Homo sapiens: one gene and its partners. The gene in region 2 interacts genetically with the main gene of each other region. Each region holds a gene or a part of one and is shown on either strand. Other genes may lie near its edges.

Region 1 (3,752 bases), on a different chromosome or scaffold from region 2:
ATTCTTAAGAAAACTCTGAGAGTTTACCTATGGGACATAATTGCAAAATGTCTGTCGGTGTCCTTTGTTAGCATCTTTGACTTTGTTAGTTCAGGTTTGCGCCATTTCCTTTATCAGAATTTTATTAAAGACAACTTTGAGACTGGGAAAAGACCTGAGTCTTTTCTGACTATGAGTGGGCCTAGAGGATACAAACACTCTCCGCTGCCCCATATTTCTCCCCTTGTTTAAAAACAGCAGCAGTGGCATCATTCTCTCCAGCTCTTCAGTCAGCAATTATGGCTGCCCAAACATGGAATGCCCTAAGGTGGCTCAGGACATTGATAGGGAACTGGGGCCATGGCCTTGGAAATGCAAGCTGCTGAGTGAGGCCAAGTGGTCTATGGAAATCACGATCTCCCTGCATGGTGGGATTACAAAGGTGACCAAGAAACACAGACAGAAACAGAAGAAAATGGAATTAAGAGTTGAAATACCCACAGAACAGAATCATGGAATGTAAAACAAGTAAACTTTATTTGGGAGATGGGGTGAATCCATCACTGGTTACTGGAACCCTGAGTCTGCATTTTCTCCTCAGGAAGGCGGTCTGAAATGGAGTGGGCTGTGTTTGGCAAGGGTTGTAGTGGTTTGGAATCTGAGTAAATGAGCAGAATCAGAGAAACAGAATTAGTTTTCTGACTGTGGTACTTCTCACACCAACCCAGAACCTGTCCATGTGTCCTCTTCACTCTACGTTCTCCATTGTCCCTATCCTCTGGGGTGTCCTCCATTTTCTCCCTCACCTCTCACCTGCTTGGCTCCCGAGCTGGGCCTCAGGCCTGTCTCCCCAGAGTAAATGCCCGGGATCATTGAGGAAGCGTTGGCTGCGCTGGCATGTTAGGCAGGTCTGTACGGTCCAGCGCTGTCCCCTGCAGCCTAGGGTGAACATGGGAAAAAGACTGTCCACGTTTAGAAGTAACGGTCTCTTGCTGCCAGTTTTGCCTCCAGTGTTTTTCAGTAGGTATCCCCGCTCCCCCACCACACCCCCAATTTGAATGCACATTTGATGGTGTCAGGCCTCGGCATAAGCTCCATCGATTTCCTGGAACTCTTTAAGATAAAGTTCAAACTCCCTAACAAGACTTCAAGAACTGGCCTGTTTCCCCCTCCAGTCTCATGTTTTGCCCTCCTACCTCAAACTCCAGCCTCCTGAACTCTCATTTCTTTGACAGCACCACAAGCTCTCTTGTCTCAGAGTCTGCACACATGCCTAGAATTTCCATCTCTCACTCCCTTTGCTTATCATAAACTTCGCCACCACTGGCATGAGTAAGTGAGCATTCTACTCCCCCAGTTAATCTTTTTCTACACCATTTTGTTTCTTAGTCTGTCCCATCAGACCGTAATTTCAATGAGAATAATGAATCTAGCACAGTACCTGACACATTTTAGAAAATAAGTATTTGCTTAATAAATGAATGGTGATGGGAATCGTCCTCCACAAAGCCGAACAACATCTATTATTGTGCATGGGTGGGGTTGCCTCTTAAAAGTTATTATTTATTGCCCACACTGGAAGAAAAAAAAAAAAAACAGCCGAGCCCAAACCCTAGTTTGTGCAAGTGGCGTTAGGAACTTAATCCAAACCCGAAGAAGGAAGACTCCTGCGAATCCCACACCCAACATCCATCTACAGTGAGAAAGGCGCTGTTGGCCTCCAGTGCCCGCCCCCCACCCCGCCCCCCTCCGCGCCCCCAATGCTCCGCAGTCTTCCACCTCCGTTGGAGCACTCACGTCTCTGGCGCTGGGTGCAGGTGAGGCCCGGGACGAGGAGGGAAGAGCAGCCTCGACAGAGAGTCCTCTTCACCGAGGGATCCCTGGGGGCGGAGGAGGATAGTGGTCTGGCGCCCGCGCTCCCTCTCGCGTTCCTCCCGCGTCCCGCCCGCCGCCCGCCCCGTGGCTGTCTCACCGCCGCAAGACGAGCCGCTTCGCAATGGTCCTCTCAGTGTAGCAGTAAAACCTCGCCAGCGCCTGGTTCTCGGGGTCCTGGGCAAGGACACAATGGGCGGCCTGCGGGAGGGGAGCAGTCACTCTGGGACGCCGAGCACCGTCCCCGTGGGGCCCTTGTCGCAGACTCACCTGGTACAGGAAGTTGAGCCTCTGGAAGGCCTCGCGGTCCTTCACCGGCCCCGCCATCACCGCCGCGCTCCAGGGCCTCCCGCAGCCCCACCCCTCGCACAGCCCCGCCCGGGCGTCCGCGCGAGGCCTCCTGGGAAACGTAGTCCCCGCGCCCTCGGGAGCCTCCCGGAGGCCTCACAAACTCATCGGTTTCTAAACACAACCCCAGCAATCCATGCCCAGGGTCCCTTTATGAATTTTCAGTGCTTTTGTCTTCCTCAAGCTCATGACCAATTATATCACCTAGAGACCTAGTGGAGCAGGTGAGGATCTTAAATCGGCCATTTTCAGGACAGAAGGCTGGTCTCTTTATGTAGCTACGTTGGGGAGATGGTTATGTGCAATTTATACCCAGCTAGAGCTTCTGCCCTACTCTCCTGAGGTCCGAGGCAGATGCCTGTAAGATCTACAGACGGAAGGCACAGAGGTAATACATTAAAAAAAAGCACTGGTGCCAGTGGGGGTGAAAGTGGGAAGGATCATGAGGGTGCTGGAGGGAGGGAAAAGGACTCCCGGTCCTCAGAAAGCACAGTTTACTCCTACTATTCCACCTACCAAAGAAACACACTTCCTGTTATGCAGTGCTGGACACACAGTAGGTGATCCTCACTTTCTGAGTGAATGGTTTCTAACTCCTAGGCTTAGGTACAGCACAGAAATCTGTCAACAGCATCCCCTGCCCCTGAAACTTCACCCCACTCCCCACACTGACATTCACCTCACACCCCTCCCTCTGACCTCTTCTATCTTCCAGTTCTTCTGTCTGGTGTCCTGTGACTCATAGTGACTATCAGTTACTGAAGTCAGAAGCAGAGGGACATGAATTGGAGGGGTAGAAGATCAATGAACCCTGAGATGGGGAGGGCAGCATAAGTCAGGAGAGGATGACTTCTCTCCAATTTCAGACCCAGTGCCAGGCGGGGACAGACAAGCAGGGCTCCAGCTGGGAGGAAGGACATGGCTGAAACCTCCTCTGGAACTAGTTTCACAAGGGTTTTCGGACTCAAATGAGAGTGGTGTGTTTAAAATGTAGATGTAGGCTGGGCACGGTGGCTCACACCTGTAATCCTAGCACTTTGAGTGGCTGAGGCAGGTAGATTACTTGAGTTCAGGAGTTCGAGACCAGCCTGTCCAACATGGCAAAACCCTGTCTCCACTAAAATTAGCCGGGTGTGGTGGTGCATGGCTATAGTCCATAGTAATCCCAGCTACTCTGGAGGCTGAGGCAGGAGAATTGCTTGAACCTGGGAGGCGGAGGTTGCAGTGAGCTGAGATCACCACTGTACTCCAGCCTGGGCGACAGAACGAGACTCTGTCTCATAAATAAAATGTAGATGTCCGGCCCACCCCAGACCTTGACTAACCACTAAGGGTGAGACCCAGGAACATGCATGTCTAACACCCAGTGATTCTTACACATCAGTACAAGGCTGTCACCAAATTACCACACAACACAGAGATCACTTCAGTGGATCCTTTGTTCCATATTATTTTAACCAACCAAAGTATCTTGCCACAAAGAACCACAGTCAAGGCACAAAGGTAAGAGGAGGAGAGTCTGGACAAAGTCCTGTTGAGGTGGTAGGAGGAAC
Region 2 (3,652 bases):
ATTATTTGTCAAGTCTGGGGGAGGATGGGGAAGGGCGGACACAGAACTCACTCTGGCGAGATCCAGATCTGCCTGTTTCCGGTGCCTCCAGAAGGTGACCGAGGAGCGCGAGTGTGGCCGGATCACTGGCTCCCCATGAACCAGCAGCTTCACAAAGACGCTCAGGACAATCACACCATTTACCAGCCATAAGAGAAGAGTAGGCATCATCCAGTCAAACCAGCCCCCAGAACCTAAGAAGGAGCGTCTCAGCAGAGTCTGCTAGGAAAGGCCTTGCGGAGCAGCCAGGCACCTGACAGACCCCAGCACTATCACAGGAAAGAGTCTTCTACCTCATTTTCAGAAGAAAGGGCAAATAATTCTATAATCTAAACAGGGCTAATGACTGTAGCCCTTCTCATTATGGAGCTGAGTGCCATAAAAATCTTTGTTTTGAAAGGGTTGAGGCATTGGTTTTGCAACCTCAGATAAAAAACACGATATCCTCCTTCAAATAGGTACCACCCCTCCACCCCAGGGTATTTAGAGTAGTGTGGGTCCCTGATTTGTTTTGCTCATTCTGACTGAACTTGGGCTTGCCTTGTTACTTCTAAAATGGAACTTATGCCAGTCCCTATCAGAAGCAAGCAGGTGGGGGCCCACTATAAAAGCCCTTTGGGACCTGGTAGCCAAGCCAAGAAGTTTGTACACAGGGTCCTTCTCCTGCCATAGTGGTCCAGCCATGCCCAGGTGGGGCAAGGGGCCTCCACCTACCTGACTCGAATGACAGGACACTGCGGCCAGAGCCTGAGTGTGGGTGCTGGTCAGAGTCGTGGGCCCCTCCCCACTGCAGCAGGGAAGTCAGGGGGTTAAAGGAGAGGCACAGGAAGGTGAGGACACACAGAAGAATCCGTGAGCGGTCTACCATGCCCAGCGCCACAGGAGGAGAGTCTGGCTCATCTTTGACCTTCAAAACAAGGCCTCGAGGTTGGAATAAATACTGCATAGGTTTTTACAGCACTTTATAAATACATATATATATATTGAGAAATGGTTATGAGGTTTAAATTCAAGTCGATTAACTCAGGACTAAGGCCAGATGGGAACTGAGAAGCCTATAATTCACTAACTGCTGCTCAAACATTGGCACATTCACCTGCTTGCTAACTGAGAAAAGTACATGTTCCAAAGAACAAAGGTAGAAGAGATTTTCTTTTAAAATAGAAATCTACCACAAAAGAGAACACACTGTATGATTCTGTTTCTGTATAATTCCAGAACAGGCAAAATGAATCTAAAGTAACAGGAAACCAATGAATCAGTCATTGTCTGAGGCTGGAGAGGGGTGTGGGAAACTACCTGCAAAGGTGTACAAAAGAGCTTTTTGGGGTGATGGAAATGTTCTATATCTTGATTACAGTGACAGTTACATAGCACTGTACATTATGTTAAAACTCTTGGTACTGTACTTTTAAAGTAGGTATATTTTATTGCATTTAAATTACACCTCAATGAAGTTGATCAAAGACCGTATTTAGTGTGAATCTATCTAAAGGATTTTACCTGTTCTAAAACTGTATCATTGTCTACACCCACCCCACTCTCCATTTTACAGCAGGAGGGCTGAAGCCAGATCTCCCCTGCGCCCCAATGTGTATATAGCATGTCATTTCTTTTCAATATTTTAAAACCATTTAAGATTTTCTTCTGATGACTCAGAAGCCCAGCTAATTCAATTTATATGTCAAACAGCCTGTTGTTGCCAAACAGAACCACATTTATAAGAATATTTCAAAAATGGAGCTTCCTTAGTAAAATTAAGTATATGATACAATAAACAGCTTAGTCAAAAACAAACACTAGGAGGGAACTTTGTGCTTTCAGAGTCAGAAACTGCCGAAGTCAAAATACAGTACAAAACCCAGTGGTCTCTACAGGTTCCCAGGAAGATCATTAGGCTCAGAGCGTCTCTTAAGTAATTCCATTAAACTACCATTGCCAGGGGCTTTGACGATTAAAGGCCCATAGGTAAAATGTTATCTGTTAGACTGCAAATTGTAATCATTTCTGAAAAGAGGACCCAGAGGCAGCCTCATCCTAAACCAACTGATCAGCCTCCCAAAGTGGTCTTGCCAGGCCCATTAAAGGCAGAGTGAAGCAATGAGGTGCCTCCAGCAGCTCCCAACGCCCCCACAACAGCTACTCTGCATTCTCGTTCTGGATCTGGCACTCATTCCTCTCTGACGGGGCCTATCGGCAAGGACCAGTTAAACCTGAGGGACTGTTTCCCCCCGGAGTCAGTTTTTTCTTTCTTTATTCTCCAGGACCTGGCTAATTTCACAGAATTCCTGTTTTTCTCCAGGCTAGGCCCTCTTAACATGCGGCCTGGCCTCATAACTGTGACCTCCCAGCTATCTTCTTAGGGGAAATGGGAAAGATTCCAGGGATCAGGAGATTTCAAAAGTCTGTACCTTTGCATCATCCAATAGAGGGCTTCCTGGCTCAGAGTCAATGGAGTAGGGAGAGAAGCCAGCCTGGGACCCTGAGTCAGAGGCTGGGGGGGACATCAGAAGGACATTCTGATTAAAGTCCTCGATCTTCAGGTCCACCTCATTGTCCACCAGACTGCCTAGGTCGATGCCCTTTAGAAGCTCTGCAAAGAAAACCCCACCTGGTGAAAATGATCTGCTTTTACAAAGCCCCACCTGGGCCAGGGCTGACAAGCCTTTTCTCAGCACACTTACTGTTCTTTTGATTTGCCAGCTTCAGCACCATGTTCTCCTGGCGCAGTTTATGATTGACCTGCTGCAAGTATTTGATGTAATCAATGGCCTTCCTCAGAACGCCAGACTTGTGCATCTGGGTAGGAAGATGAGTGAAAACACAGTGAGACCAGTGCAGGCTACAGTGTGAAAAGAGCAGAGCCCTAGCACTTGGGATGACAGCATGGCTCTGTGAGAGGAGAAACCAAGTTCAGATGCTGGTCCTCCCAATGATTAGCTGTGCCACTCGGGAGAAGTTATTCCATACCTCAGAACCTCACTTTCCTCCTCATTAGCACAGAGATAATGAAAGCGCGTGAATCACAGGCTTGCAGCAGGGCTAAATGAGATAATGAGTGTAAAGGGCTTAGCCCTGAGCCTGGCAAATAGTTGACACTCAATAAATATTAGCTATTGTTCCCACTTCTTATAATAATCCTAGCACCATAACAAACTTTAACGAAAACAAATGAAAAAAACAACCACAGCATTGTTGGACAGTTATCTTTTTTTTTTTCTTTTTTCCAAGACAGAGTTTCACTCTTGTTGCCCAGGATGGAGTGCAATGGCGCGATCTCAGATCACTGCAACCTCTGCCTCCCAGGTTCAAACAATTCTCCTGCCTCAGCCTTCCAAGTAGCTGGGATTACAGGCACCTGCCAGCACGCCCGGCTAATTTTTTGTATTTTTAGTAGAGACGGGGTTTCACCATGTTGGCCAGGCTGGTCTTGAACTCCTGGCCTCGTGATCCACCCGCCTCAGCCTCCCAAAGTGCTGGGATTACAGGCGTAAGCCACAGTGCCTAGCCTGGACAGTTATCTTAAGGCATAGATTTTTACTTAGGATGTACAGCTTTCAGATTTGTAGGCAAGGAAAATGAAATTTTCTTTCAAAATAGGGTTTAAACATAG
Region 3 (3,652 bases), on a different chromosome or scaffold from region 2:
AATAAAAATAAGTTGAAGTTCATGTGAGGAATGTTGGTAGTTTACCTTCCTAAGATTAAAGGACTTGTTTCGGTAGGACTTAATTCTTTTAAAAATGCACCAGATGATGAGAGAAATGAGAGCAAATTTTATTCCACCTTTTCTATTCTAGGTAGAAGAGAAGCAAGTGCTATGTAGTTTTAGGAGAATTAATTTTCTTGGTCACATCCAAAGAAATAATAAATATTTCATGATTATTTGTTATTAAATTCATTGAATGCTTGTTAGTTTAGTTTGTTAGGACAATATTTATTTTTATATAGTACATGATAAAACTGTTTCTGTTTTATAGCAGGCAGGATATATTGCAGGCAGTTACCCCTATACATCTAATAGTTCAGCAACCCCAATTAAAGCACTTCTTTTTTCTCTGTTGATACCTCTAGCCAGCCATTATGTCAGCTTTCAAGCACATAAGAAAATAAAACTGAGGATTATAGAAGAAAAAAGGATTAGCAAAAATCCATCACTAACCCTGTATAATAACTTAATTTGTATACTGCATTGTAGTGGGTGTCTGGTGTTATCAATATTGCATTGTCATTACTTTAAATATAATTGATTTTTTAAAAATAAGATTAAAAAGTTACTTAGCATGAAATACTTTGCTTACTTAGAACTTGAACCACTACATTTGGAATTGGGAAAAAAGAATGAAGGTTTTACCTTATTACACAAGCCACTTCTTCATAAATCATAAAATTAACCCCTTTCCCATTTAGAAAAAAAAAAGTGCAGCTTGCTGCCAGCGCTCATTTAATTTTACATAAGCATGCTGTTTGAGGTTGAGGCAAATCTGACAGATTTTCAGTGTGAAAATAAAATATAAAAACTGTTCCTGGAGTTATTTCTAAGCAGAATTCAACTTAACAGAAATATGTATGATGTTACATTAGGATTAGAGACAATATTCTCAGGGCATTTGGGGAAATGGGTTAAGCTATTGTGAAATTTCTTCAAGGGATTAAGCTAGGATATCATTTCAGTTACTTGTAGAATTACTTTTTTCATACCAGTTATGAAATGCTGCAAGATAATGTTGAAGGATATCGTCGAGAAATAACATCACTTCATGAGAGAAATCAGAAACTCACTGCCACAACTCAAAAGCAAGAACAGATTATCAATACGATGACTCAAGATTTGAGAGGAGCAAATGAGAAGCTAGCTGTCGCAGAAGTGAGTCCAATATCCCTTGTCCAACTTGCATTATAAGTTGCATTTGACATTTCTTTAGTTTTTACTTTGAATTTTACTCACTGATAGGACTTAGGTATTTAAGAAGTTTGGAGGTTACACCAAGTAATTAATACATAGTTTGCAAATAGCCAGTGTGCGTTAGTGGGGTGATTGTTTCTATTAAGATAGAAGAGGGAAAGGAATTTGTTTTTCTGCTGGGCTAAGATATACTCGCAAGTCTTGCATTTCAAAATAAATTTGTAGGTCAGTGTTTGGTTCTAACAAAGACGTTTTTTTTTTTGGTTTTTTTTTTCTTGAGACAGAGTCTCACTCTGTCGCCCAGGCTGGAGTGCAGTGGCACGATCTTGGCTCACTGCAAGCTCCGCCTCCCGGGTTTACGCCATTCTCCTGCCTCAACCTCCTGAGTAGCTGGGACTACAGGTGCCCGCCACCACACCTGGCTAATGTTTTGTATTTTTAGTAGAGATGGGGTTTCACTGTGTTAGCCAGGATGGTCTCGATCTACTGACCTCGTGATTTGCCCGCCTTAGCCTCCCAAAGTGCTGGGATTACAGGCATGAGCCACAGTGCCTGGCCAGACGAATATGTTATTCATTCTTGCTCATCTGTAATAAAAAGCAATATAAAAATTACATTGCATTGAATTTATATTTCTGAATTTTAACTTGAATATAAATGTCCATTTGAAATTATTACTTTTAACTAAATACTTAGTTTTGTGATGATAAATTTTTTATATAGTTTTCTTTGTTATTCAGTTATCTCTTCTGTCTTTGATCATTACTTGTAAGCTAGGTATAGTTGTCCCCCATTTTACCTGTGTAAAACAGACTCAAGAGCTAATGTATAATTTGCCTATTTTGGGACAGTCATGAGAGATGGGTTGGTTAGGACTTGAACCCATGTCTTATAATGCTCTTATAAGGCTGTATTCTTTATTTTTATCTTGCTCCAACTCCATTGTGAGGAGTGGGCAGCAGCACTTTTTCAAACTGGTAGAGTGAATTTTATCATTGATCATTTATATGAATCTGTGTGTAAATATGAGTACTTGTGTGTAAATATGAGTACTTTGAGCTTTCAAAACACTCTCCCTGGTCCCCTTGAGACTCAGACTCTTGGGGTTGAGGGGAGGGAGAAACTTTAAATAGATCAATCATCACTTTTAAACAGGTACTTTGAAACCGGCTTGGATTCTAAAAGTTACATAATTTAATAGTAGTCAGGTATGAATGATTACAGCAGTCATGCAATTCTGCTTTCTTCTTCTCACATATTAAATTTTTCTTGCTGTTATTTTTTAAACTGTGGATTGTTAGAGCAAGGAACCATAAGTATTTGTAATTGAAAGATTTTTTCATTGATGATCCCCAATAATTTTTGCTTCGTATTTTAGCACATGAAACTGTTTTGTATTTCCTTATACAATGAGGAGATATAGTCCCTAAGAGCATTAAAAAAAAGTAGTGATGTATGAATCATTTTAATTTTATAATCTTAATACACTTGACACCATGTTTTTCAGCATTTTTTATTTCATTTCTACTTATGTTTAGGTAAGAGCAGAAAATTTGAAGAAGGAAAAGGAAATGCTTAAATTGTCTGAAGTTCGTCTTTCTCAGCAAAGAGAGTCTTTGTTAGCTGAACAAAGGGGGCAAAACTTACTGCTAACTAATCTGCAAACAATTCAGGTAACCAAATAAAAAGCCTATGTAGAAAAAATGTATAAAAGTTAAATTTAGATTTTTTTTATCCTCTCAATTTCCTTAATTAGAAAATTTATCCATCACTTTTGTCATCCATTATGATCATTGAATTTTGCAGTTTATTAAGACATTTAAATATTTTAAATAAAATATTGAAAGAGAATTGATTGAAACCATACATTGGTAAGTCCTCAGGTATATTTACAGTGTCCTGTGCAGTTTTACTATTTATAAGATTAATTCTTTGGTTTTTATTTTCTTTAAAACTTTGGGAAATCTGAATGACGATTATAATACATTCCATCTCTTTCCTGTATAATAGATGTTTTAATATAAAAAATACCAGAATACTTTCTTGATAAATACTGTAGATTTTAGCTGCTTCATGTAGAAATGGGTTGTAATATTGTAATTCTTTCTTGCCTTCAATTTTTATTTTTTTGTATTGCCTTTTTCTTAAGCATAACCAAAAATCTTTTCTTTGCTTTAGGGAATACTGGAGCGATCTGAAACAGAAACCAAACAAAGGCTTAGTAGCCAGATAGAAAAACTGGAACATGAGATCTCTCATCTAAAGAAGAAGTTGGAAAATGAGGTGGAACAAAGGCATACACTTACTAGAAATCTAGATGTGAGTCCATCAGAGTTCTGAATTTCTGTAGGGTGTTTATGTTCAGTAATTAATCTGGTGTGTGGACAGTCTGCCA

What was found.
Region 1: changes in SREBF2 (region 2) and RPP21 together harm fitness more than expected from each alone (negative genetic interaction), as found in Homo sapiens cells (one large-scale study listed by BioGRID).
Region 3: changes in SREBF2 (region 2) and TPR together harm fitness more than expected from each alone (negative genetic interaction), as found in Homo sapiens cells (one large-scale study listed by BioGRID).

What each region holds. Positions count from the first base shown.
Region 1 is NC_000006.12:30,343,598-30,347,349, reverse strand, and holds RPP21 (ribonuclease P protein subunit p21), read right to left. Parts: upstream 2,195-3,752; 5' UTR 2,179-2,194; coding exon 2,122-2,178; intron 2,053-2,121; coding exon 1,952-2,052; intron 1,884-1,951; coding exon of another isoform or gene 1,860-1,883; coding exon 1,777-1,859; intron 919-1,776; coding exon 793-918; coding exon of another isoform or gene 786-792; intron 638-785; coding exon 540-637; 3' UTR 493-539; downstream 1-492. Other genes in the region: TRIM39-RPP21 protein, read right to left, coding at 540-637, 793-918, 1,777-1,859, 1,952-2,052. UniProt on the Homo sapiens protein: Component of ribonuclease P, a ribonucleoprotein complex that generates mature tRNA molecules by cleaving their 5'-ends.
Region 2 is NC_000022.11:41,874,523-41,878,174, reverse strand, and holds part of SREBF2 (sterol regulatory element-binding protein 2), read right to left. Parts: intron 2,839-3,652; coding exon 2,724-2,838; intron 2,633-2,723; coding exon 2,451-2,632; intron 947-2,450; coding exon 754-946; intron 234-753; coding exon 52-233; intron 1-51.
Region 3 is NC_000001.11:186,351,254-186,354,905, reverse strand, and holds part of TPR (nucleoprotein TPR), read left to right. Parts: intron 1-1,055; coding exon 1,056-1,218; intron 1,219-2,795; coding exon 2,796-2,930; intron 2,931-3,435; coding exon 3,436-3,576; intron 3,577-3,652.